2 separate regions of the Homo sapiens genome follow, and region 2 is linked to region 1. Evidence: fine-mapped expression QTL. A gene starts in region 1. The other region holds a variant in brackets. All regions are shown on one strand. Distances are between the middles of the regions. Region 1 holds the start of ARHGAP15-AS1 (ARHGAP15 antisense RNA 1). Region 2 has its middle 31 kb from the start of QTMAN-AS1.

Evidence for each region. PIP is the estimated chance that this variant, and not a neighbour inherited with it, causes the effect.
Region 2: its variant is the best candidate, but not a certain one, in a credible set for the expression of ARHGAP15-AS1 in substantia nigra (GTEx, PIP 0.74).

What each region holds. Positions count from the first base shown.
Region 1 is chr2:143,774,304-143,778,710 of GRCh38, forward strand. ARHGAP15-AS1 (ARHGAP15 antisense RNA 1) reads right to left here and starts at 1,795. Exons shown (of 8, transcript XR_007087251.1): 1 at 1,700-1,795; 2 at 880-1,055.
Region 2 is chr2:143,903,803-143,908,209 of GRCh38, forward strand. No RefSeq gene overlaps it. Among named protein-coding and RNA genes, the nearest start is that of QTMAN-AS1, 31 kb to the right of the region's middle. RefSeq lists an enhancer at 2,856-3,414. The variant C/T (reference allele first, on the strand shown) is at 2,297.

The DNA of each region.
Region 1 (4,407 bases):
ATGCAGGGTCCACAAAACTCTTAAGCCATCAGTAGGATTCTATACAACACTCCCCATTCAATAAGGAGAGCGCTAAGAAAGCAGTAAGTGAGAGTGGCAACACCATGCCCGTGCTTGGGGCTCTGTGCACACTTGATGGATCAGTGAACCAAGACAAAAACCCAGAACACTAGCAACATTAAATACAAATATGATCCACCGTCAGGTTTCCTATCAAGTTAAATGTAGCGTCTTATGTGCAGCCAAATCAGTGGTATTTGTGTTGACTCTTAGTCCCACCTAAACAAGGGCCATCAAACAGACATTCCTTCAGCTACCTCTCTTGAAGTGCAAGTCCCTAAGAAATGCTTACTAAATCACAGAAGCAGTGGAGAGATGGTAAGATTCACCAATCTAACCCATGCAAGTCTGACAGCAAATTTTGATGTCCCGGTTCAAGTCAGCTGGGAGGAGGAGGGGGTCTTAGGCATCTGTGACACCCAGCAGCATCTTCCACTAACCTTCTCTCCACTTATCAATGTGTGGTTTACATGTCAGACAAATGTTATAAGGCATAGGCATTCTGACCAACATATGAAAATCTCAAAAGCCAAGGAATCTGGAAAATACAAGGCAGTGGCCTGAAAATCCTCACTTTCCTCTGGCACTATTTTCGCTAACAAGTTTACTTGACACACATGCACACACACACACACATGCACACACACACTGGAATTTTAAGAGCAGGAATGTAACCATTGTGCTAACCATTCTCACATCACTCGCAAAATGTGTTCTAAGTCCATATTGTGCAGCATACTTGAAGACATGTGGATTTTTCCACATCATTTGGTGACATTTTACACAGTTTAATTTCTGCTCTTTCTTGCTAGACCCTACCTTTTTTTTCTCTCACAAACATTCCACCAATGGGATTTTCTTGAGCATTTTATCCTGCGCTCAGATTCCTCCCTTTTCTTCAGCATCTACTTGTATCGCTGCTGCACAACTTTGCCATGATGTGTCTGTCAAATTTCAGCCTCCCAGATTGAAAAGAAGGGGACACAGGTGTTCAACTGCCAAGGAGAGAAACCAGGTTAATGGAGTAGGGGCCGGCCTATGGGGCCGGCCTAAAGGGAAACCTCACAACCACAGGCAGAGGCCAACATGGAAGACTCCAGAGAAACGTGGTCCAGCTCGGGATGTTCCATTCCTCCATTCTCCTCACCAGACCAGGTGAAAGGCAGCTTTTAAAGTTGGAAGGAGTGAGGAATACAATTGAAACCAAAATTGGTTTGAGCTCACTATTTTTCTAGCTATCAGTTCTGAGGTCACAGTCACTAAAACTGGAAACTTAAAAATGACTTCAAAAAGGCAAACGCTAACTAGATTTCACACTGGATTTCATTTTACTTGGCATTACAGAAAGAATGCAGGTATTAAATACACTGTTTCCTGTATACAATAAGGTTAATTAGTAGTGAGGGATGGAAAATCAGTGTAGACATAACTCTTTTCGACAGGTATCAAAAATAATCCCCTGATCCCTACAGACCCCAGCTGCATTGAAAGAGGAGTAATATAAAAGATTCTTTAAGCACAAAATTTTCAAACATTCTCCAGGTGTCCCCAGCACCAGTTAAATAGGCCCTGAACCCCCTGTGCATGGGCTGGCTCCCGCTCCATTCCCTGGCTCTAACTTAAAGGCGCAGCTACTCACATTGAATTTTCAGGTGCTGCGTAAAAGCTCTCCATACAAAGCGGCTGGGATTGCAAACGGAGACAGACAGGAGAACAAAAAGAAGAATATATTGCGCCCTGCCTGGGTCTTCCCTAAGCTCCTTATCAATAAGGTTAATAAGGGTCTATGCAATTTACTGATCACTATGATGCAACAACCCTCCTTGTGCTCCAAATCTCCACGTAGGCGCTGGCTTTTAATGCTTTTCTCAGCCAATCACATAAAAGCGCTTTTGCCCGCACCCCAGAGAATAAACTCCGGTTCACGATCCTGGCCTCTGTAAAATCTCTGGTCCGTTATTACACTTCTACCTGCCCTAGTTAAGCAGATTAACAGTTATTTCCTAGAATTTGATCTATGAGGTTCTTTGTAATTGAAGCTGGAGTACTCAGATATTACTAAAAAATGTATTTCTGAAAAACGCATTCCTTTTTTCTCTGGTTTAATTTTGTTATCCTCAATCATATGCATGATATTAAAAAAATCCAAATTTCTATCTCCTCTATAAAATACATGTCATATCAAAAAGGTGACAAGAGGGGGGAAAAGTAATTAGTGAGTTCACGGAGTTCAGTAGAAAAGTTAAAATGGAGTAACACATTACTTTTTATGTTAAGATTTCACAAGACAAGTCTTGCCTGTGTTTTAATTGCATGTGACCCTGGCAGTCCTACTCTGAAATGAAGTGCCGTAAAATTAAAGATGACAGACGCTCAAAACAAGTCTTGTGATCTTGATTAAACTACAAAGACCACACTCTCTCTCTGCTGCAACTCAGATATCATGGGCTGTTTTATTTGGGGAATTGCTTCATTAATGCCTTCTTTGACTAGACATGTTTATTATATTAAAAAAACTGAATATGGTGATATCTCGCATAGCTAAATAATTCCCCCTAAAATGCAAGTTACAAATGAAGAGTGTTTAAATATCCTGCAGACCTAATGCTTTTATAAATGCTCACAATTATATATCTATATATCATATGTATGTGTGTGTATGCATGTGTGTGTGTGTATATATATATATACCACAATCATGAATAATTGAATATGGGCATGTATGGATATATATGACCATATTCATCCTTGAAACATGAATTACCTATGCTAACCTAGGAATCTCTACTATAGTCTGAGAAGCAGAGCAATTATTCTACTATATTTTCTTAGCCATGTAAAATTTCCCAGGCCAACAGAATGTAAAGAATTTTACATTATCCTATACAGACAACTTCTGAGAAAACACTGGAATTTTAAAGTTCCCAGGTATAGTCTGAGAAGAGAACTGGATTTGATTCACACCTGATTTTTCAAAATTATTATCAAGACATTCCATCTAAGTTATATAAAACATAGAATAGATGCTTTTAAATCCTGCTTCTTCCCCTGGGTGGGAGTGGGAAAAAAAGCAGAGTTGAGAGCAAGTCCTTATTTCATTCTGCTGTTAGTGTCTCTCCCATATGTCTCCACTCACCAGGTCTTGTTCAAATCTCAAGCCCTCTGGGACAAGTCCTTGTCCTCAACAAGGACCTTAACAAGTAGGTGAGATTATTCATGTCTAGGGTCTCCTACATTCTAAAGTTCTACGATCCTGTTATTTTGTCCCATTTCAAGAACACTATTTTTAATTCATGTTCCAATTCGTCAATTTTATTTCATTTTAAGAAACAAGAAGACACTATATTTGTAATATACACTGGCTATGTGGGTGTTAATATCTAACAGGGATATATGGATTCACCTGAGAATCAGAGCTGGGAAATCTGGTTTCCAGAATTCACTTTTTCCTGGAGTATTCATCATTCCAGATAAGTCTCCATACACATGTCTCAATTTCTTCATGTTCAAAACACATATGGCAGTTTTTGCCCTACCTAACAAAAAGGGTTGTTGTGAAAATAAAATACAATACTATATATTAAAAACTCTTTGAAAAAAAGTATGACTGATGCTTCCCAATCAGTATTATTTTTACAATTTTTCTACCAATGGCCTTCAGTAAACACAAAAGCTTTTGCATTTACAAGCCAACTGACCCTTTAACTTACACTGTTCTTTTAAAAATCTTCATGCTTGCCTTTAAAATGAAATGCTTGTTCCTGTATGTTTTTTCAACACTGTCAAAAATCCTCAGGTGAAAGATATATCATGTCTTTCATATGGGAGATTTTTATTTGACAGAATAACTCAAGATTCTGGACATAAGAAAGTGTTTATTAGAACCTAATTATGTATAGCATTGCGAGATTATGTTCGGCTAAGAGAACTGCAGTTACATCTACTTTCAGCCTCTCAGTCTCTCTCTACTTCCGAGTCTACTCTCTTCCGTGGCTCTTTTATCTTTTTCTATCTTGGTGCCTCCTTCTCTGTTTCTCTGTGTCTCTTTATTCCCACTCCATACCCTGACATTCAGTACAGGAATTTTAACATAGGTTTCGTGGGTCCCTGGACCCCTGGACTTCAACAGATGCAGGAAATCTCAAAACCTTCATGCTAGATTTTTGGCACATTTTTCTGGAGTCCAAGTCTGGAGTTTTCATCATATTCTCAAAGAGGTCTGTAACTAGGAATTACTGTTCTAGATCCATTTCCCAGCCTATCAATACTGCTATCTTTTGTCTAAATTGAACTGTAGATGGGTCACTGTCAATCAAATCCCAAGTTCTAACAGGCCATGAGGAGTCT
Region 2 (4,407 bases), 130 kb after region 1:
TTGACTCACCCTTGATTACAGGGAATGTTCTCTATTACCTTTTAAAATAATATGATATCCATAAGCAAAGCTTTGGATTAGCATTTTTGATAGCATTACCCATCACTGATTTTTTTTTCAATGCTGAAATGCATAAAGTAGGGCTAGAGCCAGCCTAAACCTAGTGCTTAGCCCAGTAGTGTATTAATTATCTTTTGTAACTTCAGAATAAAATGCAGAATTTCCCTCCCTAGGAACCTGGAATGCAATGTTTGCCCATGTAAGCAGTTTATAAGTGCAAATGTGAGTAAGTGTTTTTATATATTAGAAAGGTTGAGAGAATCCTCTTTCCACAAAAAATAAAAAGCTTTAAAAGAATAAATATTCATGTTCTAATACAGGGAATGTGAAATAAAAATAAGTTTAACTCTATTGATAAAAAGTACTTTTATTCAATAGTTAAAAGACAAATCACTTGCAAAATTTGCTTATATAGGAAAAAACTCTCAGTGTTGTAGCTTTCTTTATCATAGAACACCAGCCTCCCTCAAACACCAACTGTGATAATTAATGTCCATATTATGAACATTCTATGTGATACAATTTGTTTCTGCTTTGTTAAAAAAAAAAAAGGCCAAACTGACTGCCAGCACTTGAGATTCTGAAAATAATACTACATATGTTGATAAAATAATTCACTGCTGTTATTAATTTTCCAATTATATTTTGATATTTTAAAAAACTATTGTTATCATATACTTTTATAACATATCTAAATATTACAGATACATAAAACAGAATTGGAGACTCCCACCCACAGAAACTCTCATATAAACAACCTGGTGAATAATTCTTCAGATTTCCTCTCCAAGTGTTCTAATATGTATATAACTTTTACCAAAATGACACCATACTATACCTTCTGTTTGTGACTTCATTTTTTTTATGTCTAATAATTCTTGGACATCTTTTCCATTTGAAGCCGTCAAAACTGCCTCATTCTTGGAATCTCTATGGGCATCATAGTAGAAGGGATAAGATCGTGGGCTTTGGGACCAAATGGCTTAGCTGCATTTGAATCCTAGCCCCAGCATTAGTAATTCTGTGACTTTGACAAGTTACTTAATTTATCTGTGCTTTGCTTTCTAAACCCATAAATGTCAAATTAATAACATCTACTCAAAGTGGTTGCCGTGTCCATTAACTAGTTGCTTCTTGACATTTCGTAGGCATGAGACCACAATAGTACTGTTACCAAGGATATCTGATATCTTATTAACAATCTCACATTGATGGACATTTAGATTGACCATGATTTTTTATTCTCACACATAATGCTCTAATGAACATTCTTCTAAGTACAGCTATACCAATTTTGTGAGTATCCCTAGAGGCTAAATTTTTGAAAGTGTCATGTTTTTAATCAAAGGTGATCTATATTTTTAAAATGATAAATATTGCAAGACTATCTCCAAAATTGTAACTATTTATACTATGAATAAGAGTGATGAGGGTAAATTTTGGATTATGAGAAATACTTTGTTAAACCTTTTGCCCACACATTAAAAATGCATAGTTTTTGTTTGTTTCTTTGTTTGTTTTTACAAAGGAGCAGAGTATTACTGGAACACAACATATCTTAAGTAACATTTGTATTATGTTATCCATAAAAATCCAAATTTTTTTCATAATTTCCCCCATTCTCACAGTTCTGCAAGTCTTTGAGCCCTATTTCTCCAGAGAAAGAATTCATATCACCTTATCTTCATATAATCAGTTATTATTAAATGCAGAAAATAACATTCCACTAGGCAGCTACTCATAAAGATCTACAAATGAGATGTGTAACAAATGTTTATGGAAATTAGTAAATCAAGATATGAAACAATTATGTCATGTTCTACAGGTATGGTAACGTTAGTCCTCAAACCCAGACTGAAAACATTCTCTGACAACTCTACCACATGTTCAGAATTGAGATTGTTCAAGACTGGTTTTCTGTAGTTACACGAGAGCCCAAAGGGGTGAAACCACCCTGAGATGGATGAACCTCTGAGGTCTAGTAATATGTGGCGCATGTACAGTGTGAGAGAATATGTCCTCGAATCACAGTGGAACTAAATGGCAAACATTTTACAACTTCTGGAAACACATTTCTTTCTGGTTCTTTGATGTAAAGCTAACTTGAGGCTTTGTCCCAGATAGTAACATCCGATACAAAGAAGTAACATAGGAATAAGTTGATTTCTATTTATCAACATAGAATTTAAATAATTTTTTAATAATGAAGAGGCTTTACATCAGGTTAATAGAAAGG[C/T]AAAGATAAATGTTTACACAGGAGAAGTGGTGCATAGCTACATCTGTTCTCCCCACACACAGCAGCAAATATTGTGTTCTTTATGAAGTTTTATTTGCTTTTCATGCTTACTGTTGTTTACATGTTCTAAAATCTCTGCACGATGGAGTTTTCAAATGAAATAAAGATATCTAAATACTATAATTGGGAATTTTCTTAGAATTATTTTACCCTTTCTAAAAATAGGTTAATATTTGGCATTAACGTTTTTCAACTTAAAATACAAAATTGTTCTAAAACTGGGAGTTGAGGGTTAAATAGAAAATTAATGCGTATTTGCATTTTTAAAAAGATTTCCAGAAACAGTATTTGTTTTATCTAGTTTTATATTTAACACCTTTTGAGCATGAATCAATTCTCTACTTCTCTCTTTACTTGATCTTTTAAACTAAGATTTTTCTGTAATAACATAAGCCTAATTCTTTGGAAATAATATTCAGTTAGCATAATTGACATTATAGAGTTTTAAAGTACATTATAGAATATTCTGTCACTAGACACTAAATTGAAATTTTAAAGAAAATGATGGAAATTGCTGTAAGGGAAAAAAAGTAGCCTTTTAAATCTAATTTGTTATGCACTGCAGTAGGGTAATGGATGCAATGAAAGTTCTTTTATAGAGTTCCCATGTCCAAAAGGTATTTAGGTAGCAAAGGATGTTAAGCAGACCCCTGCTATCCCCCTTTAACTGAAGATAGCAGGAAACAAGGTATATAGGTCTGTGTCCTCCTGATTTTTATTTCCTCAGGAGTACAACTTCTGCAAAGGACACCTTAGGCTGCTTAGCGATCACAAAGGGTACACTAGAACCCCTCGCTGTCTGCTTGAATAGCACGATCTGAAGGGTGGCTGAAGCCATACAGGGAGTTAAATCCTTCAGGTGGGTCTTTTCAAATTCCAATAGTGAGGAGTTACTGGAGAATTGGTAAGGATTTCACTAGGCCCCAGCAGGTTTGAGATCAAAAGCTTCAGTTAAATAAAAGCCTATTGGGAAATCTTAAAACCTCTTTGTAATGTAACTTTAAAAAGTTAATACAAAGAAACCTTAGACTGAAGCCAGTAACAGCATGAACAAAGAGTATATCAAAACTGATTCCATTAAGAGAAAGCGGACATACAAATTCACTTACTTTAAAGAGCAATCCAGTTATATTACTGTGCGAGAGAATAGAACTTACACCATACCATCCAGCCCATTTAGATGTGCTCATTTCTTGCTACATATGCCAGACTGTATTCTTTGTCATTCTGATATGCTTTTTAAACAACATATATATTCATTTTCTGAAAGAAGAAAGAGTGATGTGCATCTAAACTCACTCCTAAAGAAGATCCTTTTAAAACAAATTAAAATTAAACTTGATGGAGACCCATCAGTCAGCTGGTTATCTCTTTCTCATGGTGTCAAACTGCTAATTGCCCATCCTCCTTAAAATAATAGACCTTCAATTGATATTGATTGGTAGATCATTAATGAGTGCATTAATTATAATGTAATTTTTATAATGAATACTAATCCATTCCTTGGCAAGTCACACCCTTTTATTAACTGAAGTCATTCATTAATGGTTTAGTGGGGGAAAAATGAACTTTATTTGGTTCTGAGGTCTGAATTTTGCATTGGTTTTGAATTTTTCAGAACACTTGTACTGAAATGTCTCATGTACTCAATGTCTCTTACACTTTCACATTAGGCGTGTGAGACGGGTAGCTCACATCTCCTTTTTTCAACAAATAGGGATACTGGAACACACTTAGGACATATAATGTGATCCAGATTGCACAGTCATTTAACGAAAGCTTGGACTACATAGACCCTCTACAGCTTGATTTAAGCCTAGAGACTTTTCAACTGGACAATGTCTCACTGGTCTCACAGATTGCAGAATGTAATTCGAGCTAAGTTGCACATAGCCGTATTCATCCCAAAGAACTCTTTTTCCAAGTAGTCATTACTAACAACGAATGTCCTGACATTTTCATAGTGATAGATGAAGAAACGGAGGCACTTGTACTCACATTCAAAATTTCAGCTCCTTTCTCTCTTCTGTTCTTCAGTTGTCTTGTCTTTT